Linked DNA regions of Homo sapiens. The protein of the gene in region 2 interacts with the protein of the main gene of each other region in a pairwise test. Each region holds a gene or a part of one and is shown on either strand. Other genes may lie near its edges.

Region 1 (3,500 bases), on a different chromosome or scaffold from region 2:
CTGTGTCAGTACTTCATTCCTTTTTATGGCAAAATAATATTCCATTGTGTGGATATACCACATTTTGCTTATAACGGTTTGATAACCAGCTCACAAAATTCTTGAAAATTTAAGTCAGCTCTTGGAAACTGGCATGAGTTGGTGCCAGCATGCCACTGACGTGCACTAGTGAGTGTAGACTGTTCAAGAGAGTTTCTGCTCACCCCAGAGACTCTTATGAACATTGACAGACCTTTTTAAAAAGTACTGGCCGTGTGATTTTATCCTAGACTGAGATAAGAAATGTGGCACTAATGAAGACAAGGCTCAGTGCTACATGTTGAAATACAGGCTCATAGGCTTATAGGATGTTAGAATAGGAAGGGATCTCAGAGTCCAGCCTTTTCATTTTATAGGTGGATTTTGAGGACCAGAGAAGTTAAATAACTTGTCTGAGATAGTTATTAATTGTGGGCATTGCTATATTTTGTTACTTGGTATAGGTAACCTCCCGTGCCTCTGGGTTTATCCAGCAGTTTAGCTGGATATATCTCAGCATTTGGAAATGTTTCTCTGTAGAAGTCTGAACTGAATCAGAATATACCCTAGGTCTAGACTTCAGGTTCCCTCAGCCTCCCAGGGTAATTCTAGGAGTTTTGGTCTGTTCTAGCCAACAGTCTCAGATATGGCTGTGCAGACAGCTGCCTTACATTTAGAAATAACCCCAAAGAGGACTATAATTCCCTTTGGAAACATGACCTGGGCCATTCTCTCAGGGATTTCTTCTCATTTGGGTAGCCCTGGCACTGAGCTTAGCCATGTGTGTTTCACGTGGAGTGGAATTTTTTTAAAAAGATCTAGTTAGAAGGCAGGATTGGGAAACAAGGGGCGGGGCATGACATTACTGTTTTGCCTTGAGCAAATTTCTTGAATACTAGGTAGACCCCCCTCTCTGAACTATTAAGTTCAAGAACTATTTCAAAGTTAAATATCAGGCTCAAATTATCTGCTGTTTTGAATTGTATACACACTTTTAACTAATGTGAGAAATTGAGTTGGTTCTATACTATTCTTGAGTTGATTACTTTGTTCTTCCTATTGTATGTATGATGAATTTTCACCAAAAATAAGTCAGACCATGATTTTTAGAACATCTTCTGAGAATTGTTTGGGTATTAAAAGTGAGGCTTTATTTTCTTTTCTTTCTTTTGTTTTGGTTGTTTTCCTTTTTTTTTTCCTGAGATGGAGTCTCACTCTGTTGCCCAGGCTGGAGTTCAGTGGTGCGATCTTGGCTCACTGCAACCTCCACCTCCCAGGTTCAAGCGATTCTCCTACCTCAGCCTCCCATGTAGCTAGGATTACAGATGCACGCCACCATGCCTGGCTAATTTTTGTATTTTTAGTAGAGACAGGGTTTCACCGTGCTGGGCAGGCTGGTCTTGAACTCTTGACCTTGTGATCCGCCCGCCTGGGCCTCCCAAAGTCCTGGGATTACAGGCTTGAGCCACCGCGCCTGGCTGAAAGTGAGGCTTTATTTTCAACTTGCATTTGGGTGAAAGAATCATTCCATTGAGCATGAGTCTATATTTCAGATTTCAGAATCTCAGATCAGAGGAATCTATAAATTTCAGACATTTCTTTTTTTAATTTTATTTTATTTGAGATGGAGTCTTGCTCTGTTGCCCAGGCAGTAGTGCAGTGGCATGATCTTGGCTCACTGCAACCTCCACCTCATGGGTTCAAGCAATTCTCCTGCCTCAGCCTCCCAAGTAGCTGGGATTACAGGCATGCGCCACCATACCTGGCCAATTTTTTGTATTTTTAGTAGAGACAGAGTTTCACTATGTTGGCCAGGCTGGTCTCAAACTCCTGGCCTCAAGTGATCCACCCATCTCTGCCTCCCAAATTGCTGGGATTACAGCAGACATTTGTTTTCAAATAGGGTGTTAGCATGCCCTGCCATGTTTCTTAAGATACATAAGATATTGTTCAGTTTGTGGTGTCCACAGGACCATGTGTGTCCATGTTCAATTGCAGTGCTTTATGAAGGCCTCAAATTGCTCAGTGGCCCATAGCGCTAGACCTGAGTCTGTTTGCTCTCAGTTCTGTTCCTCGCCCTTTCGCTGCTCTGTATCTTTGGGGGGTTAGCCCGTGTAGGCTGTGTTTATCAGGCCCATGTGTCCATTGGTGTTCTGTTGGTTTCAGCCAATGGGAAGGCAGAAATGGGAGGGGGTCTCCACCTCCTCTCCCTCCCCGCAATTCTAGTTTCCCCTGATGACCCTGGGTTCTGGTTTCACCATCTCCTCCCTTCTGGCCTGCTTGCCTGAGGGTGCTAATGGCTTCCTGCTGTAGATGATCTCTAGGGTGCCTCACTGACCAGTTTGTCTTCTCAGCTCTTCCATCATCTGTATGATCAGTTCCCTGAATTAAAGTCTCTCTGTTTTAAATGTTCAGGTGGTTTTTTTTTCCAGGCTAAACTGACTGATACACCCACATTGTCACAACTTAGAAAACTTCAAAACGTATTCATCCCTCAGGAATATTCAAACAGTTCAGGACACCTTACTTCAGAGTATAATGCCTTGGAAGATAGACACGTGACCTGTGATGCCACCAATGGCATATGGTTTTATGTATGGGTCTGTATGACATATTGACATAAGGGAAGGAAAGAGAACCCACATACTTTTGTTAGAACCATAGATACTATACTTTACAAGCTCTTTTACACCTTGTGTTTAAGAGAAATTGTAGTGCAGTATTGTGCCAAGCTGTCAGAAGACGTAGTATGCAGTCAGTTTTTGGGACGTGGGCAAACTCTAGATTCTTACTCATTGCCAGCACTCAGGGTTATATAAAATGTTTGCAGTGCGAATTGTGTACCTAGCCAAAATTGCGCCACTGCACTCCAGCCTAGGCAGCAGAGTGAGACGGAGTCTCAAAAAAAAAAAGAGAGAATTGTGTACTTGATCACATTCTGGTTGTTTAGACGTGGATGTGTGGCATGGGTGTGTAAAGGAGCCCCTTCCAAGAAGATACCTAGCTTAAATACATTATAGTTCTTATCAGTATTCTTATAGTCTAGACTCAAGAAGAGGTCTGCCATGGGTGAACTTGAGCACAACAGATTCCAACATTGAGGGTGTGGAAACTCTTCAAGAGAATAAGCAGTTTCTTACCAGAAACCCCTCAGCTAATACTGAATAAACAATTGAAGAGTATTTTAAGGAACAAAGAAGAAAGGAGTGAGAAGCTGATGACCTGAAGTTTTCACATGGGACTAATTTAGGTAGTGTTAATCTGCTTGCTCTTATTCCATGGTTAAATATTGGTTTATTTGTCTTTAGGTTTTGTACAGTATTAGAATACTGTGAGGGAAATGATCTGGACTTCTACCTGAAACAGCACAAATTAATGTCGGAGAAAGAGGCCCGGTCCATTATCATGCAGATTGTGAATGCTTTAAAGTACTTAAATGAAATAAAACCTCCCATCATACACTATGACCTCAAACCAGGTAT
Region 2 (2,898 bases):
GACCTCCATCCTGAGAATTAACCATGACTTCCTAACAGACCCAAAAGCCCAGACTGACTTATAACTAGAAAACTGTTGCTACCCTCGAACTGTTCGGAATGGCAGCACTGAGGAGGTAAACCTTTCTCCTAACAAAACGCCTCATGAGCTCTCATGGTACTATGCCATGGCAGCAAACTTGGGATGAATTAAAAGAAGTGTGTCGGGAACAAGCAGGTCAGATGATAGTACAGTATACTATCATTTCTCTTCTCTGCAAACTGGAGAAATGTTTAATTTCCAAAATCCATATGCTCAGAGAGGGAAGCATATCAGAGAAGGTCCAGAGGAAGACACCCACCATTTGTAAAATGATGATTTTGGTCAAGAGAATGAATAAATGGATAGACAATCGGGCTCACCCACTCCAAAATTCAAAGAGTAGTTTTCTCTGAAGAGTAAAGTTATTGATCATTTTGATTTTCTTTATGCTTAATGAATGCATGTACTTTTTGAATTATACAAATTATGTAATTTTTAAAAGTCAGTGTTTGAAATAGATTGATTCCCCATACCGCTCTGTATGTGGAAACAGCCCTAATATAATTGCAGCATCTACTTGTTCGTCTTATTATTTTCTCACATACACATTTTGCTATCTTCACAGAAACCTGGATGTTGTTATAATACATGAAACTGAACGAGACACTCTGTGGCCTTATTAAAGTCAGATGATGAATGCTAACATCAAGTTCAAAGAGGCAAACAGGCCTTGAGGGCCTGCCAGAATTTCAGCTTGCATTTGTTTCTAATTCCTGCAATGAGTTCCTCTAGGCAACCTGACTTCTGGAAAATTCCAACGCAGTTATAGCAACACCAACTAATGGGCTGTTAATCCCTTAATTTACATCAATTGCACTATGGCCAACAATATCCAGATGCAATAAAAATAAACATGTGAATAATTCCTCTGAAGTTGCTTATCTAGCTGCTCCTATATTAGTCTGAAGACTGTGAAACATTTATTTTGCTGTTATTTGGATTTGAAATCCAGCAAAAAATGTTCAATGGAGAATAAACAATCAGTGTAGCCCCAGAACTGTTTCCAGCAGAGGCTCATGCTGGCCAATATCGTACCATCTAATATCTCTAATTGTTGCACAAACAGGAGTTCTAGGAAAACCACTGGGAAAGGCCTACCAGAAGACAGACATTTTTCCTATCAAGAATCCATCCAGCAACAAAGGTCTAGTACAAACCATCTGCCTTATCCAACTTACATCATAAAGGGTGAACCTAGTGCAGGACCTCTAAATGTAGGGGCTAATAGATATTTGGGACAGAACTAAGAGGAGAGGCAGGCTGTCATACCAAGTGAATAGCATCAAGCTTCCCAGGCAGCTAGGAGGGCCACAAACTCGTCACACCATTCACAGCAAAGACACACTAAATTTCCAGCAAATACCTGCTATGCCTTTTCTTATTGTAGATACAGACAGAAAACTAGCATTCTCATTATATTATGTATATCTCACCATGTAAATATGAATCCCATTTCTGATCCTTTTTTCTTTCTCACTAGTTTATCACATATACCCAAAGTAATGCCCCAAATGCGTGCACAGATTCTATATTTAGCATACAAACACATTAATATAAACCCAAATTTTAAACTACTAATCTGCTATCTGATAATGTGCCAGCATTATTTCCACTTTCTGGTGCAAGGCTCCCTGGTACCCAAAACATGCCCCACCACCACCCAACATTATCAAGGTAACAGTATAATAAAAGGCAGATCAACCTGACAAAACTGGACAGATTTTTATTACTCATTTTTTTAGGGCATGAATTAATGAGTCAATCACTTAAAAGTGATGGGATTGACTGTCTCCGACTTGACTGGTCAAGCCAATCACTGTAGTGCGAAAAGCTCTCAAGGGTGCAGACACAGCCAATGAGGTCCGCAGGCCCTGAGCCACTCCTCACTTCTCTGGGGCCTGGGTTATGCAGGCCACCACCAGCCGCACTTACTTGCATAGGCAGGTTATTTGCCATGGTGAAGCTGGGCATAGGCGGCAGAGCGCTGTAGGTGTTTGTGAGGGCTGTGTCTGTTCGGCCCAACATGGAGCCAGATGTGAAGGAGGAAACTGAGGGCAAGAGAAATGACAGTAGTCAGAGTGAGAGTCAGAGCCCGGAGCAAACAGGTTTAAAGACATTGATTCGTAGTATTAGTATTTCAAATTACCCGGTGTGGTGGGTTGTGGAATTGGTTGGTAGACACTGGTGCTGAAACTACTGCTGATAGGAATATGACTAGGTGTGTTGCTGGCCTGTCTTCTCTGATTCCTCAGTTTTTCTTCTCTTCTCCATTTGGCCCTTCGATTAGAAAACCATACCTGGAAATCAGGTGGGACAGGTTAGCACTGTGTCTACGTCGAGCCCAGCCCCACCTTGGCACCTCCACTGCTGCCCTCCCCACGCCCATGGCAGCAGAGCATTTAGCAGACTGAACCTTTTTATTATATTAGTCCTATAAATAAATAGTACTCTGTACAAGCACCTCTGTCTCTAGGAAAGACAAATGGTATGAATCACAAAGTGTGAAACTGCACAGTCTCTCGGTACCTGTATTCTTGCTTCAGGTAGATCTATTTTGGCTGCTAGTCTTTCTCGGGCAAACACATCTGGATAATGGGTTCTCTCAAACTCTGAAAGAGTAAGTTGATTTTCCATATTGTGCCAGAACTACACAAAATATGTTGACCAAACTGTGCATCAAACTGGTTCCCACCTCCCCACTCCCATTACCTCCAACCAATTCCCTTTAAAATGCTTCTAGTGTTGACTGTACTTGGAAGAACTTTCCCACCAGAACCAAGTTAAATTTTCTTTGGAATGGCATTCAGTGACCTTTCT
Region 3 (3,500 bases), on a different chromosome or scaffold from region 2:
GTGGCGGGCACCTGTAGTCCCAGCTACTTGGGAGGCTGAGGTGGGAGAATGGCGTGAACCCGGGAGGCAGAGCTTGCAGTGAGCTGAGATTGTGCCACTGCGCTCCAGCCTGGGAGACAGCAAGACTCCGTCTCAAAAAAAAAAAAAAAAGTACTTGGATAAATCAAACATACACAGAAGCATTTAAACAACATTAACAGTACCCAATCACCTGAAGAAGTGTTTGTTTCAAATGTACAGAAGATTCAAATCAGATTTTTTGGATGTTAGGTTGTTAAATTTACTTTTTAAAAAGTTTTAGATAATTCAGGCAACTGCCTCAGTTCCTCTTTATGGCTTATGGTCTAACTATAGACATACGTTTCTGGTTAAAAAATTAACTATGGTTACATAGTATTTTTCCCCTTCCTTACTTCCTCCCTTATTTAAACTAACATTTTCTTCTTGTTCCCTCCTTCCCTTCTTTCCTTCCTTGGTTTGTCTCCCTAATGTCACTTTCCTGGTTTTTTTTTCCTCCCATATTAACTTGGTGAGAACTGCACAGCTTCTGCGCATAGAGATAACGGTGAGTCTGATTTTAGGTGCTGCTATAGTTAGTGAACTTTGCTGCATTCTTTCAGTATTTACAGCATCAGCAGCCCATCCTTGTTACCTGGGCCAAGAGGTAAGATCATTGCAGCAGATGATGTCAACTAGGTTTAACCTTGGAAAAATTTGAAGTCATTTTTAGTATAAGAAAAGCCTTACCCTAAGTTAGAGTTCTCACTCATGATCCCTGGCATTCACTAGGGTACTGATACTCTCTTCCTTTTAAAGAGGTTTTCAATGACTCTTGTTCAATTATAAAAACTAGGCCTGGCCAGGCGCGGTGGCTCATGCCTGTAATCCCAGCACTTTGGGAAGCCGAGGCAGGCAGATCATGAGGTAAGGAGTTCGATATCAGTCTGGCCAATATGGTGAAACCCCGTCTTTAGTAATAACACAAAAATTAGCCAGGCATGGTGGCACGTGCCTGTACTCCCAGCTACTCAGGAGGCTGAGGCAGGAGAATCGCTTGAACACAGGAGGTGGAGGTTGCAGTGAACCAAGATCGCACCACTGCACTCCAGCCTCACTCCAGAGTGAGACTCTGTCTCAGAAAAAAACAACCAACCAACCAAACAAGAAATAAAAACAAACAAACAAAAAACAACAACAAAAAAAACTAGGCCTAACCTGATAAAGGGTAGTGATTGGTTTGGCAAACTTGTCCAGGGAAAATTCCTTAATGAGCAGCAACAGGCTGGATAGGAATTTTTGCTTTGGCCCAGGAGGACTGGTGGGTTGCTTAGTAACAACAACATGTACCTGGGAGTCCCTCAGATAGCTTCACTGGTCTTCAAATTTAGGCCTCCAAATTTCAGATTCACCCTACCATCTACCTGCCTGCATAGTTTCTTCCTTTGGATTAATTCAGGCTCTTCAGATCAGTTTTGTTTATTTTTCCATTACCAGGAGAGCACATTTTATGTTGTAAGTTTCTTATAATGGTAAATGGTAAACTGTATTATAATAGGTAATAACAAAAGTGTATATATATATTTTTTTGAGTTGGAGTTTTGCTCTTGTTGCCCAGGCTGGAGTACAATGGCACGATCTCGGCTCACTGCAACCTCCGCCTCCTAGGTTCAAGCAGTTCTCCTACCTCAGCCTCCTGAGTAGCTGGGACTATAGGTGTGCGCCACTATGCCCGGCTAATTTTTTGGTATTTTTAGTAGAGACGGAGTTTCGCCATTTTGGCCAGTCTTGTCTCGAACTCCTGACCTCAGGTGATCCATTCACCTTGGCCTCCCAAAGTGCTAGGATTACAGGCATGAACCACCACGCCCGACCGAAAGTGTGTTTTATGCTGTAAGTTTCTTACTGGAAATGGTAAAAAAAAAAAAAAGTACTGGATTATAATGGGTTAAGTGGGATAGAAATAAGAAAGCATTCCTTTGGGGATCTCTACCTCCCATCCCCAATTATACTGGGAAGAGAGAAGTGTTTCAGCTTCATGAGTTTTGGTGAGCAGTAGTAATATTATTTGTAAAAAGAGCACCTTTTGATTTGCCACATACAATACTAATCAAATAACACATTTTAAGAATTCTTATAGGAAGTGCTAGAAAAGCTGGTGCATTTCAGGAGATTTCAATGTATATTTTGAAAATAAGTCAGGGTTCTGGAGGTTGTTCATGCATTTGAATGGGCATTCAGTGGAAAGCAATCAATGCCTGTGGTAGATGAAGTACCTTATTTTACTTTGTAATGAACATGGCAATGAACTTTGTGGGGAGCACTTCACTTTCACTCCCAAGGAAATGCTTCCTTTACAAGTGTGAATGCAGATACCCTCCGGAACAGAAACGGAAAGCAAGAATTGCTTGTGGCTTCTCTTTATTTTGGCGCCAGCCTTTCATCTGAACTCTGAATATACAAATATAACTAACCCTGAGAGCCAGAGTCCCTTCTTTTTTAAGGCCCATGAATTTAGATCAGGGTTTTAGGAGACAAGGAAAGGCTGAAGTGAAGGAGAGAGGAGTGGAGAAAGGAGAGGACAGAAGGGAGCAGGAAGAAACTGCTTAACTACTGTTAAGTTGCCAGTGTTTTCTCAGTGGAGTGTGAGCGGCCAGCAGGGGCTGCTGCCGGGGCCTAGGGTGCGACAGCATGTGGCTGTTTGGCCTCCTAGATAATTGGTTTTGGTTTTAATTTGCAATCTAGAATCCTAGAGCTAGAAAGAGCCTTAGGGATCATCCAAATGCATCGTAGGGCATGTGAGTGAGCAAGTATAGGATTTTGATCTAAAAGCCTGGATTGAGAAGAAATGTAAGAAGAAATCTTACATTTTTTCTTCTGTGTTTCATTTTGGGATTCTAAGTATAAATTGAAAATTTGGAGTTTTGATTAGTTTGAAAAAACATGCTTTTTTTTTTTAAGAAAGATTGAGAGCAAGATTAGCACTGCATGTTTACTTCTTAAACCATGAACGTGAGTCTGTGAAATACCTGGTTAAGATTCTGATACCATTACTGGGGAGTTAAAATTGACTTTTCTTCCCACACTCACCCCAAATCATTGTTTTTTGGTTCTCAGTTCAGTGAGTCCCATAAAATAACTGCCTTCTGTACTTCTTGGATCTAACTTTTCAAAGAAACAAGGAACAAAGGTAGCTTTTGCCTCTTTCCTGCATTGCCAATAAGATAATTAACATAAGATCAGAAGATTCTTCTTTCATTATTTTTCATCTGTAAAATGGAATTGAACTAAATGATCTCCGTGAATAATTACCTGCTCCTATATTCTGTGTCTCATTTTCTCCCTCCAGAGGGGTCTGGGCTGGTGGTGGCTCACAGCAGGGGCCATGAACATTAGCAAGACAGGAGGTTACAGGCACAGTGGGACCTGCTTCTGCTCCCAAGCCCCCTCACCTCCTTCACCAAAATCAACGGTGGTCTGATTCAGATGGCAGACTTTTGGAA
Region 4 (3,500 bases), on a different chromosome or scaffold from region 2:
ATTTTTGTATTTTTTTGTGGAGATGGGGTTTTCACCATGTTTCCTGGGCTGGTCTCGAAATCCTGAGCTCAACCCATCTGCCTGCCTTGCCCCCGCAAAGTACTGGGATTACAGATGTATGCTACCACGCCAGTCAGTTGTCTTATTTTAAGAAGCTGCCACAGTCACCCCAACCTTCAGCAATCACCACCCAGATTAGTCAACGGCCATCAACATCAAGGCAAGACCCTTCACCAGCAAAAAGATTATGATTTACTGAAGGCTCAGATGATCAGAAGCACTTGTTAGTAATAAAGTATTTTTTGGTCGGCCACGGTGGCTCACACCTGTAATCCCAGCACTTTGGGAGGCCAAGGCAGGTGGATCACCTGGGGTCAAGAGTTTGAGACCAGCCTGGCCAACATGGCAAAACCCTGTCTCTACGAAAAATACAGAAAGTAGCCGAGCGTGGTGGTGGGCATCTGTAATCCCGCTACTCGGGAGGCTGAGGCAGGAGAATCGCTTGAACCTGAGAGGCGGAGGTTGCAGTGAGCCGAGATCACACCACTGCACTCCAGCCTGGCTGACAGAGCAAGACTCTGTCTCTAAATAAATAAAATAAAATAAAATAAAACAAAATACTTAGACAAGCCATGACTCAACTTCATGTGTATATAGTAGAAAACAGAAGTACCTACTCTAACAAGTAGGTCATTGGGAGAATTAACAGGGTCATTGGGAGAATTAAACAAGACAATGAATAGAAGGTACTCTGCGTAATGTTTTTAAAAAAGTAAGAAATACTGAAAAACGGCCAGGCGCGGTGGCTCACGCCTGTAATCCCAGCACTTTGGGAGGCCAAGGCAGGCGGATCATGAGGTCACGTGATTGAGACCATCGTGGCCAACATGGTGAAACCCCGTCTCTACTAAAAATATAAAAATTAGCCAGGTGTTGTGGCAGGCGCATGTAATCCCAGCTATTCGGAAGGCCGAGGCAGGAGAATTGCTTGAACCCGGGAGGGAGAGGTTGCAGTGAGCCGAGGATTGTGCCATCGCACTCCAGTCTGGGAGACAGAGTGAGACTACATCTCATAAAAATAAATTAATTAATTAAATAAAAAGAAATACTGAAAAATGAGCCACAAATGTGAACAGTGATAATCACGGATGGTGGAGTTGTAGGTAATGTTTTTCTTTGTACTTTTCTGTATTTTCTCAATTCTTCACAATAGGAATGCTTTACATTTAAAAGAAGAAAATAATATTTTTTAATATAGAAAAAGTGCATTTTTTCCCCTAACACATATTTCTGATTGAAACCCTCTAAGCCTTACTGGATAGTTTAAAAAATAACTCTGTGGGCTCCTTCCAGTCCTTCATTTCTAAGCAAATCTCATATTCTTACTCATTTCCTAACCTGAGATCCATGTTGATCACTGCCATTATTCACCATGGACACTGTGCCTTTCTTCTTGTGCTTAATTCTTGGGACTTTTTCTGCCTCAAAAAAGCTTGCTTGATCACCATACAGTTGGCTGAAAAAACATATAAGGTTATAAATGTAAGTACTCTCAAAATGAAATACAGAAGTACTAGTAACATACAGGGTTATCAATTATTTCTTTACAGAAATGCCAACAGAATTCAAAATATTACTTTTTTTTTTTTAGGGAACTTGGGGGAAAAAATCTAAATTTAAACCATATTTTAAAATGCAGATTGAAGCATGAGCAATTATATTTTTCCTCATTTAAGAATAAAAGAATTTGTTCTGCCCTTCCAGAGGTTAAAAGTAAATAAATAAATAAATAAATAAATAAATAAATAAATAAAACAACTTACCCAAAGATAGACTCTCCTCCACGGCCAGTCCCTGTAGGATCGCCAGTTTGTATGATAAAATCCCTCTGTAATATGTAGGATTCTTTGTTAATTCACAGAGTTTGTTAGATAGTTCCAATAACAAAGGAAATGACTAATATCTACCAACTCACCTGTACATTGTGAATAAGGCAATAATTGTAATATTTTATTTTGCACAGTTTCAAGAAATTCAAGCAGGCTGAAAGAAAGTAAATACCAAATTTATCACAGTAATCCACAAACACATTTTTAAATAAGTAAAGCCACAGTAAAATGTAATTTCTAAATTACTATTAAAAGAAAAAAAAAGTCAAATGTCCAAAGCTATAAAAAAGGGCAATAGGCCGGGCGCTGGCTCACACCTGTAATCGCAGCGCTTTGGGAGGCGGAGGTGAGTGGATCACTTGAAGTCAGGAGTTTGAGACCAGCCTGGCCAATATGGTGAAACCCTGTCTCAACTAAAAATACCAAAAAAAATTAGCCAGGCATGGTGGCGGGCACCTGTAATCCCAGCTACTAGGGAGGCTGAGGCAGGAGAATCACTTGAACCCAGGAGGTGGAGGTTGCAGTGAACCAAGATCGCACCACTGCACTCCAGTCTGGGCAATAGAGCAAGACTCTATCTCAAAATAAAATAAAATAAAATAAAATAAAAGGGCAATAAGTCTAGAAAAAAAACATTTTAAATTACCTTTTTTTTTCCTTTAATAGGAGTTTTGGGGCATCTGGGCTAATACAGAAAACTGACACTTATAAGCAATCATTTACTGATGGATTGATTTTATTACGAGAAAAAAGAACACTTAAAGAGCATATTGTAGTAGAAAAGGATCTAGCAGAATATATAAAAATGGATACGGATTATATCAATTAGGAAAAAGTCAAACACCCGGGGTCATTTTTTAAATAATAGTTAAACAGCCCTTTATAAAAATCCATACACTTATGAACAACCTTTCTCATACAAGTTAATCTGCTTATCCAATAAACATTTACTGAGTACCTTCTAGATGCCTGACACTGCCATCACAAATGCCATTAAACTGTGGTCCCTGCTCCCAAAAAGTTCACAGTCTAGTCGTGGAAAGACACATTAACAAGCTCTTAAGGCACTAAGTTAGAAACCAAACAGACAGTAAGATATATGAGGCAATCCCTGCCCTCAAAAAGCTTACATTAAATTAGGGTCCTTACATCTGAACACAAGTAGTTACATACTGGGCATATCTAATTAATAACATGTGTGCCACTTATTTAAAATGGTAAAAAAAGTAGTTTTAAAAATTCCACAAGAGTTCAAAAGATTGTTTCTGGCTAGGGAAATTAGAAAACCTCAGGGAAGGTTAAGGCAAGCATTAAAAGAACTGGACTAGCAGAGAGTGAAGGGTGAGCATTTTAGGTCTGGAAGACTATGAAAAGGCCTGGAAGTGGAAATTTAAATGTTTTAGGGGAGGTCCAAAACACCAAAGTTCTGTAATAGTCTGGTATTACACAGTAATAGAGCATGAAAAGACTGGAGAGATAAGATGGGGCTGAGCTGTTGAAGAGTGCTGAATATCAGTCTTGCAGTTGTTTTTCTTGAATATATTTCTGGGCTTCATGTTTAACAGATAGGGGTGGTCCTTTTACTAGAAACAAAAATAATGAATTTAGGCA
Region 5 (3,500 bases), on a different chromosome or scaffold from region 2:
TTTTAGGTTATATAAAAAGTAGCCTTCGAGTCATTGCAGTCTGTAAAAAGATGGTATTGATACTTATGTATCTAAAGCATACTGCAGATTAATTGAAGTATCTGGAAATAGGTGTTTCCAGTGTAAATGAATTGATTCTATTTATTGCCTTTTGAAGAAAATTATACTTAATGGGTAAGTGTAAGCTATCCATATTAATCTAGCTAATGAATGGCTTGGGACAGAATTTGACGTTTGCTATGCTGTGTGTATATATACAGAACCGGTGAAACTCAATAAAAGCAACGTGAATCAAGATTATTGATGGCAGGGAATAGTTAGCATGACCTGTAATGTGAAAAACAGCAGAAACTGGTGTCAGAGAATTTAGGCAAATCTAATTTGCTTGAGTACTTAGAGGAGGGCCACTTGGAATTATGTCCAAGGAAATTATATTGCCAATGATCTGCCAGGGAGAATTTTTTTTTCCTGAGAATTTAGAGTTTAGTGCTGCTGAAATAGAATGGAAGAGGAAGAAGTTGACTTTCTAGAGTATATTCAGAGGCTGGAGTCTCTGAAATTATTAGCAAATACATACTTAATGCTGTGAGTCCCTTTAAGTTGCCTAATACTCTGGGCAGTTAACAGTGATTCAGAGTGAGAGTGGAGAATGTTTTATCAAGGAATATTGTTTTTAGCATCTGTTCACCTGTATACTTTTTTTTGCTTTACAGTTTTCGGCTTTGTGAGAAACCTTACCATCAAACACGATGGCCAGCAACGTTACCAACAAGACAGATCCTCGCTCCATGAACTCCCGTGTATTCATTGGGAATCTCAACACTCTTGTGGTCAAGAAATCTGATGTGGAGGCAATCTTTTCGAAGTATGGCAAAATTGTGGGCTGCTCTGTTCATAAGGGCTTTGCCTTCGTTCAGTATGTTAATGAGAGAAATGCCCGGGCTGCTGTAGCAGGAGAGGATGGCAGAATGATTGCTGGCCAGGTTTTAGGTAAGTGAATTTTTTCATTGATGATGTAATTCAGGCCTGAGTTTTTCTATTCACGTTTTTTTTTTGTCTTTATGTCTGTAAAACTGACAGCATGAGATATTCTGGATATTGCGACTGTTTAGCCTAATAAAAATACATTAGGCTTATAGTTATAATTGGCTAAGTAAAGGATATTCTTCATTGTACCATTTTGTGTAGTAGAGCTAGGACAACTCTACTACAATCGTGAGTAGGGGGAGCTGGGAATGACACTTCACAATGTAAAAACGTTGCCTAAATGGTTGTGTCCTGCCCACAGCAGACTGGAGGAGCCCTCTAGTGTTGATTGCTTGTCTCCCCATTGGGATTTCACTCCATCCGTTGGGCCGACTGCAGTTTGGCTCAGTGTTAGATTTTCTTGTATTTTAAAATGTAATGACACCTCAGAGTACTTACTACCTATGATTTGGTTTATTCAAGCCAGAATCCAGTGTCCACATGTTTATTTTATTAGTTGTACTAGATGTCTGTTTTAACTTCTCATTTTATGTGTACCTTGTGCCTCAGTTTCAAAATTATCATACCTTTGTTTTTACAAAGTTAAGATGATTATTTTTAAATTTATATTTGTGATTTAGTTTATTCTTTGTATACATTCTACTATGTATATTGACTCAAAGCATGGTAGGTTAGAGTTATGTGAAACAATTCTTTGATAATGTTATGTAACCAACCAGATACATAATTTGGGTCTATTTCATTGTTTTTACATCTTACTGGATTGCTTTTTCAGAAATTTAATTCTCTTTAGTTTTGAAACACTTTATATGGTTTCAAAGTCAGAATTGTAAATGAGGTTAATGTACCAAAACCTGAAGGTTATTCATGTAATGGTGTTCAGCAAATAGACAATATATTCAGTCCTTTTTTTTTTTTTGAGACAGAGTCTAGCTCTGTTGTCCAGGATTGTGTGCAGTAGTGCAGTCTTGGCTAATTGTAACCTCAGCCTCCCGGGTTCAAGCGATTGTCCTGTTTCAGCCTCCCGAGTAGCTGGTACTACAGGCATGTGCCACCACACCTGGCTAATTTTTGTATTTTTTAGTAGAGGTGAGGTTTCACCATGGTGGCCAGGCTGGTCTTCAACTCTTGACCTCAGGTGATCCTCCCGCTTTGGCCTCCCAAAGTGCTGGGATTACAGGCGTCAGCCATTGGACCTGGCCTGAGTCAGTTTTCAGTTGGTCATTTGATGAGCTGCTTTTGTATAAAAAGGGAAGATAAATAAGATTAAGTTTAAGATATCCACATTTGGCCAGGTTCGGTGGCTCATGCCTGTAATTCCAGCACTTTGGGAGGCTTGAGTTGGGCAGGCCATGAGGTCAGGAGATGGAGACCATCCTGGCTAACACCGTGAAAAGCCATCTCTATTAAAAAATAAAATTAGCAGGCTGTGGTTCTGGGTACCGGTAATCCCAGCCGCTCAGGAGGCTGAGGCAGGAGAATTGCTTGAACCCGGGAGGTGGAGGTTACAGTGAGCCGTGATTGCACTCCAGCCTGGGCAATGGGGCAAGACTCTGTCTAAAAAAATACCCACACTCATCTAGTTAATGGTTTGAGGTGGAATTTGGAATTTATATTTTGGGGCATTTGTATATTAAAATGAAGCTCATTTTAATAAAAGCAGTATATATGAAAATGGAGTTACTGTTGACTCGAGTGCTGTAGCATGACTGGGAAGGTAAACTGAATTTTAGAGAGTTTTTGGCTTTTTGACATGGGCTTTTTAGAACAAGGAGAAGATAAATTCTTGTTTGGTAGGCAGTGGGTGGCAGGGTAGGTAGCTGGGCATACGTGTTACAAATTGTATTTGAAAACCAGGGTTGTTTCCCTTTGCTCTTTTATTTTTTTTGGTGTGTGTAAAGGTTGTTTAAGCAATTGATCAATTATTCAGAAAGCAGTCGTTAACCCAGGATATTTTACGTGTAGAACAGCTAATCCTTACTTATAAAGAAAATCTGAAGTTGCCTTTGAGGATGATTTGAGGTTGTCACACTTCACTATGTTAATTTGTGAATTGGCATATATTTTAATATATTTCATTCTAATATATTTGTAATAATTCGGAATGAGCTGAACCATTCTTGGAAAGGCAACCAGTGATAGTTTTCTCTTGTAATAGTAACTGAGTGAACAGTCAGTACCTTGAATGGGGAGAGTTGAGTTGAAGTGGTATCTGAGGGTGGAGAGTACCAAAGACAGACTTAATGTTAGTCTCAGGAACACTTGAATGGTAAAGAACAGACTACAAAGAAACGGAAGATGAAGCCTTAGCCTTGTAAAAATTTGTGAGCCTTTTTAATATTAAAAGGAGAGATGAAGCTGAGCTTGATAGCTCACACCTGTGATTCCAGCACTTTGGGAGGTCAAGGCAGATCACGTGACCCCAAGAGTTCGTCCCTACGAAAAATAGAAAAATTAACCAGGCGTGGTGGTCCCTGCTACTTGGGTGGGAGGATCACCTGAGCTTCGGAGGT
Region 6 (3,500 bases), on a different chromosome or scaffold from region 2:
GGGGTTTCACCATATTGGCCAGGCTTGTCTTGAACTCCTGACCTTGTGATCTGCCCACCTCAGCCTCCCAAAGTGCTGAGATTACAGGCGTGAGCCACCGCACCGCACCCAGCCCATTTTTTTCTTTCTTTATTGGAGAGATGGCATCTTGCCAAGTTACCGAGGCTGGTCTCAAACCCCTGGCCTAAAACAATCCTCTTGCCTTGGTGTCCCAAAGTCTTGGGATTCTAGGCATGAGCCATTGTGCCCAACCTTGTACCAATTCTTAAGTGATAAAATTTTATTTTTTGTTTTATAGTTCATACGAGCCATTTCTAGATATTTAATTTTTTATGCTGTTTATCGAGTGCTTCCTATCTGCTTGGCTTGGTCTGGCAGTTTTCATGGATGCTGTTTCATTTAGTCCTTTTTGCAATCATTAAATGTAGAGGAGACCTTTAGTTATCTTTAAAAAATCAGATGCTTGTCCTAATAGCAGATGTTTTTATATAATAATATACTAGCTTCTTCTTGAAGTCAGACCTTATAGTTATTCTTGAATTTTTTTTTAGGTTGTTTTGAAGTATTTTTGGAAGATAGTAGGGCAGTGACATTATTCTAGAGGTCTGTCAGCAAAGTTTTAAATTTTTTCATTGATTTTTATAAACAAGGCACTTCCTGAGCTAAATTAGATAGAAGCAATATTTAATAGGTAGATTAATTTTTTTAATTGGATAATGTATACTTATATACATTAAGATATATTAAGATACACTAATTAGCCGGGCGAGGTGGTGGGCGCCTGTGGTCCCAGCTACTCGGGAGGCTGAGGCAGGAGAATGGCGTGAACCCCGGGAGGCGGAGCCTTCAGTGAGCCCAGATCGCGCTGCTGCACTCCAGCCTGGGCGACAGCGAGACTCTGTCCCAAAAAGAAAAAAAAAAAGATACATTAAGATATATTCTTATGGCCGAGTGCGGTGGCTCACACCTGTAATCCCAGCACTTTGGGAGGCTGAGGCGGGCAGATCACGAGGTCAGGAGATCGAGACCGTCCTGGCTAACACGATGAAACCCCGTCTCTACTAAAAATACAAAAAAATTAGCCAGGCGTGATGGTGGGCGCCTGTAGTCCCAGCTACTTGGGAGGCTGAGGCAGGAGAATGGTGTGAACCCGGGAGGCGGAGCTTGCAGTGAGCCGAGATTGTGCCATTGCACTCCAGCCTGGGCAACAGAGCAAGACTCCGTCTCAAAAAAAAAAAAAAAAAAAAGATATATTCTTTATTGGTTAGAAACAAGTTTGGTCATTTTTTTTCTTTTCTTTTTCCCGATACCGAGAATGGGACCAAAAGTTTGGTCATTTAAAAGTGCTTATATCTGCCTGGGCGGGGTGGCTGATGCCTGTAATCCCAGCACTTTGGGAGGCTGAAGCAGGTGGATCACGAGGTCAGGAGTTCAAGACCAGCCTGACCAACGTGGTGAAACTCCATCTCTACTAAAAATACAAAAATTAGCTGGGTGTGGTGGCGTGCGCCTATAATCCCAGCTACTCAGGAGGCTGAGGCAGGAGAATCCCTTGAATCCATGAGACGGAGGTTGCAGTGAGCTGAGATCGCACCACTGCACTCCAGCCTGGGCGACAGAGGGAGACTGCATCTCAAAAAAAAAAAGTGCTTATTTCTGCTGCTGCTGCTGCTAAATGAATATTTTGATAAGATTAGATTTAATATGCTTTTTATATATTTGAGGTAGAGTAACTTGAATTCTGTTATTTTATATAAAACTATTGAGAGAAGTTCATTTTGTTAAGGAAAACACCATTCAAGGACATAAACTTTAATGCTTTTTCTTTTAAATGTGACGATAGGTTAAATGTTTATTGCAAGGATGTTGCAGTTTTTTGAGTTTTTAAAAATCTAAACTTAAATGCTAAAGCAAAAGTTTACATGTGGAATGTTAAGCAATTTATAACCATTATTAAGTAATGAGGCAGCTGTTTTTGTAGTATTTAAAGAATCAGATTGTGAAGTAGAGTACTCACGGGAAAATGCCATATTGTGGATGTTACTTAACTCAATTTTCTTCACTTCTTTTGCCTTAATAATTCAATGACAAAGGAACAGTTTAGTTCTTGAGCTTTTCTTCCTAAAATTTCTTTTAGGTTTATGGAATCATTGTTGACAGCTTAAAAATTCTCATTCCTTCCTCATCTCCTCTTTGGGTTAAGTTAAATTTAAAGATTGTTAATTTTTAATATTAAAAGCTATTCTTCAAGAAGTTAATGTTTTAAAGTAAAAACTATTATAATATGAATAATATAGTTATCATAAGGATTCCTTAGTTGTATTACCCTGATCAAATAATGCTATGATTAATGCTAAGTGGTCATATATTGAAAGTTGTCAGAGCGTGTAACATAAGGGATAGAAATAAGATTTTAGAGACTCTCGAGTCCAGCATTATTTATATAATATCTGTGGGCCCTCACACTGCTCCTAAGAGATTATTTTGGCCATTAACAAAGAACTTTGTATGATGGGTTATAGAGATGGTTTAATCTGGAGTTTAATCAGAAAAAAAAAATTCTTAGGAAGGAAAAAGAAAAGCCTATGTAGTGCTGAAGCCAAATTTATTATAACTATATTTGAAGCTGGCATTTCTAATTCTGGGTATAGACAGTTATTGTCACAAAATTTCTTCAGGTACCCTTCTCTTACCTGTCAGTTTTTTTTTTCTTTCCACTACTTTTCTTTAAATTTCATTATTGTTATATGTTCTGTGATTCAGGCATTTAGTTCAACTCATGCATGAATCACTATGGGATTCTATTAAAAAGAACTAGCCACGAGGCATAACGGCTCATGCCTGTAATCCCATTACTTTGGGAGGCTGAGGCGGGTAGATTATTTGAGGTCAGGAGTTTGAGACCAGCTTAGCCAGCATGCTGAGACCCTGTCTCTACTTAAAAAAAAATTAAAAAATTAGCCAGGCATGGTGGCGCGCACCTGTAGTCCCAGCTACCCAGGAGGCTGAGGTAGGAGAATTGCTGGAACTGGGAGGTGAAGGTTGCAGTCAGCCGAGATCGCACCATTGCACTCCAGTCTGGGCAACAGAGTGAGAATCCGCCTCAAATAAAAAGTAGCCAGAAGAGAGGCCAGGCGCAATGGCTTATGCCTGTAATCCCAGCACTTTGGGAGGCTGAGGCAGGCGGATCACCTGAGGCCAGAAGTTCAAGCCCAGCCTGACCAACATGGTGAAACCTCATCTCTACTAAAAATACAAAAATTAGCTGGGCATTGTGGTGGGCACCTGTAAACCCAGTTACTCAGGAGACTGAGGCACAAGATTTGCTGGAACCTGAAAGGTGGAGGTTGCAGTGAGCCAAGATTGTGCCTCTGCACTCCAGCCTGGGCAACAGAACGACCCTGTCTCAGGAAAAAAAAAAAAAGAGAAGGATTCGAAACAAAAAGGGCTTGAAGAAAATAGTACCACTTTTATTTTTTCCTCAGATTCATAGTCATCCA
Region 7 (3,159 bases), on a different chromosome or scaffold from region 2:
TTACTGTTAGAATGTGCAGTATTAATGATGTATACAAGTCTGAATTTTCCAACTGTGAATACTTCAGCTTTGCAAATGTTTGATCTAATTTTCCTGAGTGGCAAGAGTGGGGAGGAGATGCAAATGGCTTACTGCTATTATACACTCTTCTGAGCCTTTATTACACCAGCAAAGCTACTGGGTCTGGCTGCTACCCATCTTCTGTTTATATTCCAGCTATGCCACTGTGAAAGGTTATCTATTGAACCTCCACTTCCTTATTTAGTAAACAAGAGTAAAGATGTCCATCTTGCAAAGATGTTGTGAGAATTATATATATTGCATAATATGGCTTTGCAGGTCATACTGTTTCTGTTCCAAATATTCAATTCTGCACTGTAGTGTGAAAGCAGCCCTAAACATTACATAAAAGAAAGTGCTCAGTGGCCGGGCATGGTGGCTTATGCCTGTAATCCCAGCACTTTGGGAGGCCAAGGTGGGTGGATCATGAGGTCAGGAAGATCAAGACCATCCTGGCCAACATGGTGAAACCCCATCTCTACTAAAAATACAAACAATAGCCAGGCGTGGTGGCATGCACCTATAGTCCCAGGTAGTCAGGAGGCTGAGGCAGGAGAATCACTTGAACCTGGGAGGCGGAGGTTGCAGTGAGCTGAGATCATGCTACTACACTCCAGCCTGGGTGACAGAGTGAGATTCCATCTCAAAAAAAAGAAAAAAGGAAGTGCTCAGTAAAGGGTGATTTTTCAATGAAACTTATATGCAAAAGTGACATTTATTGCAGTGTAAATAATGCATTAAATTGACAAAGACTACCAAATATGAATACTAAGGCAATGCTCAGTATTTTAGATACAACTTATTATTGCAGCCATGTGGCTCTTTGTTGAGGAGAATGACAGTCCCATATTGCTCTGGGGAGCAGTCCCGTGCCAGACAAGCTCACCCACACCCCAAAGCTCATGGCTTAAGTCCCTCATTGCAGTACCCTTTTAAACTTGGAGAGCCAAGTTGAGAGTAGGGAGGGAAGCTGTTCTTTCCTCTCTGACATTACTCTGGGTGCCACTGCTAATGTGACTGACAGGTTTGGCATACAGAGCCAAGTGCTTTTGAAGAAAATGCACTGACTTAAAGATATTTACCAGTTAAATTGCATTTCAGTGATAGAACATTCCAATCACTTTTTCCCCTGGTACTTTGATACCTAACTTAAAAATGTTTTCAACATTTAAACACACCAAGAAGTGATATAACATAGTGGTAAGAAGTACAGGCTCTGGAATGGGACTGCCAGGGTGCAAATCCTGGATCCAGATCTTGCTAGCTGTGTGATGTGACCTTGGGCGAGTCGATTAACCTCTCTGGCCTCCATGTCCTCATCGGCAAATTGGAAATAATTGTTTGCCTATAATTTGAAGTCTAGATGAACTAATACATGTATAGCATTTAACAGATAAGCACTATATAAACATTAATTATTACCTGGTTGTCAGGAAGTCTTACATAGAAAGAGTGGCATTTTGGAATTTGACGTTACTGGATTTAAAAAGAACTGGTTTGTATCCTAATGTGCTCAGAGAAATTTTAGAGCATGATGTGTGCAGTTTGGACTGGATAGACTGACCACCCTTCCTTCTGCACTCTTCCAGGAGCTGGCCCTCTTTGACCAATTCCGAGAGTGGCCTGACGGCTATGTGCGCTTCATCTACAGCAGCGATGAGAAGAAGGCACAGCGTCACCTGAGCGGCTGGGCCATGCGCAACACCAACAACCACAATGGCCACATCCTCAAGAAGTCGTGCCTGGGTGTGGTGGTGTGTACACAGGCCTGCACCCTGCCCGACGGTTCCCGCCTGCAGCTGAGGCCGGCCATCTGCGACAAGGCACGGCTGAAACAGCAGAGTGAGGACATGGGGCCAGGGAGAGGGTGACCTTGGAGTCATGAGTTTTTTGTTGTTGTTGTTTTTGTTTGTTTGTTTGAGATGGAGCCTCACTCTGTCACTCAGGCTGGACTGCAATGGTGCAATCTCAGCTCACTGCAACCTCCGCCTCCCGGGTTCAAGCGATCCTCCTGCCTCAGCCTCCCAAGTAGCTGGGATTACAGGCATGCGCCACCACGCCCGGCTAATTTTGCATTTTTAGTAGAGACAGGGTTTCTCCATGTTGGTCAGGCTGGTCTTGAACTCCCGACATCAGGTGATCTGCCTGTCTCGGCCTCCCAAAGTGCTGGGATTAGAGGCGTGAGCCACCACACCCGGCTAATTTTGTATTTTTAGTAGAGACAAGGTTTCTCCATGTTGGTCAGGCTGGTCTTGAACTCCTGACCTCAAGTGATCCACCCGCCTCGGCCTCCCAAAGTGCTGGGATTACAGGCGTGAGCCACCGCGCCCGAGCATGAGTTCTTTGTTCCCAGCTAATTTTCCCCTTCTTCCTTCAGAAGGGTCTGGGGTCAGGGTTAATATTTCTCCCTTCTGGGCTTTGCAGAGAAGGCATGCCCTAACTGTCATTCTGCTTTGGAGTTGATTCCTTGTCGAGGGCACAGCGGATACCCCGTAACCAACTTTTGGCGGCTTGATGGCAACGCGATCTTTTTTCAGGTAGGTCAGGTGAGAACACAATTTGTGATGGATACTTTTCATCAGACCACAAAGGCCAAACCACCTGTCGTGTGCCTTGGGAACCCTGGGCCAAACAAAATACAGCCCCAGTGGCCAGAAATAGGTGCTGGAGCTCCCCAGGGACCTAGCGGGAGCCTAGAAATTCACTCACTACTTTGTGCTCTTTAAGGTACACAGATGGTAAACCAAGTTATAGTTCTTTTAATAGAGTGAAGGGATTGCAGGTGATCTTTTCAGATGTCAATTCTTGAGCCTGTTTTATTTGTTCAAGAATTTTTTTTTCTGTCATTTTGAAAGAAACAAAACTAAACTCTTGAGATGTTGGGAAAGGCATGATCAATTTTTGGGCAACATTGTCAGCTTCCTTTAGAGGCACAAATGTATGATTCATTTTCTCGTTATCGCAGGCCAAGGGAGTTCATGATCATCCAAGACCAGAGAGCAAATCAGAGACAGAAGCTAGAAGAAGCGCCATCAAGAGACAAATGGCCTCTTTCTACCAACCCCAGAAAAAGAGAATTCGAGAATCCGAGGTAACAGG

What was found.
Region 1: the proteins of PAX6 (region 2) and TLK2 interact in binary tests that used the Homo sapiens proteins (3 or more experiments, as listed by UniProt).
Region 3: the proteins of PAX6 (region 2) and GRHL2 interact in binary tests that used the Homo sapiens proteins (3 or more experiments, as listed by UniProt).
Region 4: the proteins of PAX6 (region 2) and PPIL4 interact in binary tests that used the Homo sapiens proteins (3 or more experiments, as listed by UniProt).
Region 5: the proteins of PAX6 (region 2) and HNRNPC interact in binary tests that used the Homo sapiens proteins (3 or more experiments, as listed by UniProt).
Region 6: the proteins of PAX6 (region 2) and UBE2K interact in binary tests that used the Homo sapiens proteins (3 or more experiments, as listed by UniProt).
Region 7: the proteins of PAX6 (region 2) and GCM2 interact in binary tests that used the Homo sapiens proteins (3 or more experiments, as listed by UniProt).

What each region holds. Positions count from the first base shown.
Region 1 is NC_000017.11:62,597,325-62,600,824, forward strand, and holds part of TLK2 (serine/threonine-protein kinase tousled-like 2), read left to right. Parts: intron 1-3,326; coding exon 3,327-3,496; intron 3,497-3,500. UniProt on the Homo sapiens protein: Serine/threonine-protein kinase involved in the process of chromatin assembly and probably also DNA replication, transcription, repair, and chromosome segregation. Phosphorylates the chromatin assembly factors ASF1A and ASF1B.
Region 2 is NC_000011.10:31,791,425-31,794,322, forward strand, and holds part of PAX6 (paired box protein Pax-6), read right to left. Parts: intron 2,691-2,898; coding exon 2,608-2,690; intron 2,379-2,607; coding exon 2,228-2,378; intron 2,130-2,227; coding exon 2,014-2,129; coding exon of another isoform or gene 1,840-2,013; exon of another isoform or gene 1,781-1,839; intron 1-1,780. UniProt on the Homo sapiens protein: Transcription factor with important functions in the development of the eye, nose, central nervous system and pancreas. Required for the differentiation of pancreatic islet alpha cells.
Region 3 is NC_000008.11:101,498,939-101,502,438, forward strand, and holds part of GRHL2 (grainyhead-like protein 2 homolog), read left to right. Parts: intron 1-3,500. UniProt on the Homo sapiens protein: Transcription factor playing an important role in primary neurulation and in epithelial development. Binds directly to the consensus DNA sequence 5'-AACCGGTT-3' acting as an activator and repressor on distinct target genes.
Region 4 is NC_000006.12:149,539,544-149,543,043, forward strand, and holds part of PPIL4 (peptidyl-prolyl cis-trans isomerase-like 4), read right to left. Parts: intron 2,044-3,500; coding exon 1,976-2,043; intron 1,889-1,975; coding exon 1,824-1,888; intron 1,517-1,823; coding exon 1,399-1,516; intron 1-1,398. UniProt on the Homo sapiens protein: PPIases accelerate the folding of proteins. It catalyzes the cis-trans isomerization of proline imidic peptide bonds in oligopeptides.
Region 5 is NC_000014.9:21,231,443-21,234,942, reverse strand, and holds part of HNRNPC (heterogeneous nuclear ribonucleoproteins C1/C2), read left to right. Parts: intron 1-713; 5' UTR 714-749; coding exon 750-990; intron 991-3,500. UniProt on the Homo sapiens protein: Binds pre-mRNA and nucleates the assembly of 40S hnRNP particles. Interacts with poly-U tracts in the 3'-UTR or 5'-UTR of mRNA and modulates the stability and the level of translation of bound mRNA molecules. Single HNRNPC tetramers bind 230-240 nucleotides.
Region 6 is NC_000004.12:39,739,636-39,743,135, forward strand, and holds part of UBE2K (ubiquitin-conjugating enzyme E2 K), read left to right. Parts: intron 1-3,500. UniProt on the Homo sapiens protein: Accepts ubiquitin from the E1 complex and catalyzes its covalent attachment to other proteins. In vitro, in the presence or in the absence of BRCA1-BARD1 E3 ubiquitin-protein ligase complex, catalyzes the synthesis of 'Lys-48'-linked polyubiquitin chains.
Region 7 is NC_000006.12:10,875,883-10,879,041, reverse strand, and holds part of GCM2 (chorion-specific transcription factor GCMb), read left to right. Parts: intron 1-1,649; coding exon 1,650-1,902; intron 1,903-2,484; coding exon 2,485-2,597; intron 2,598-3,025; coding exon 3,026-3,151; intron 3,152-3,159. UniProt on the Homo sapiens protein: Transcription factor that binds specific sequences on gene promoters and activate their transcription. Through the regulation of gene transcription, may play a role in parathyroid gland development.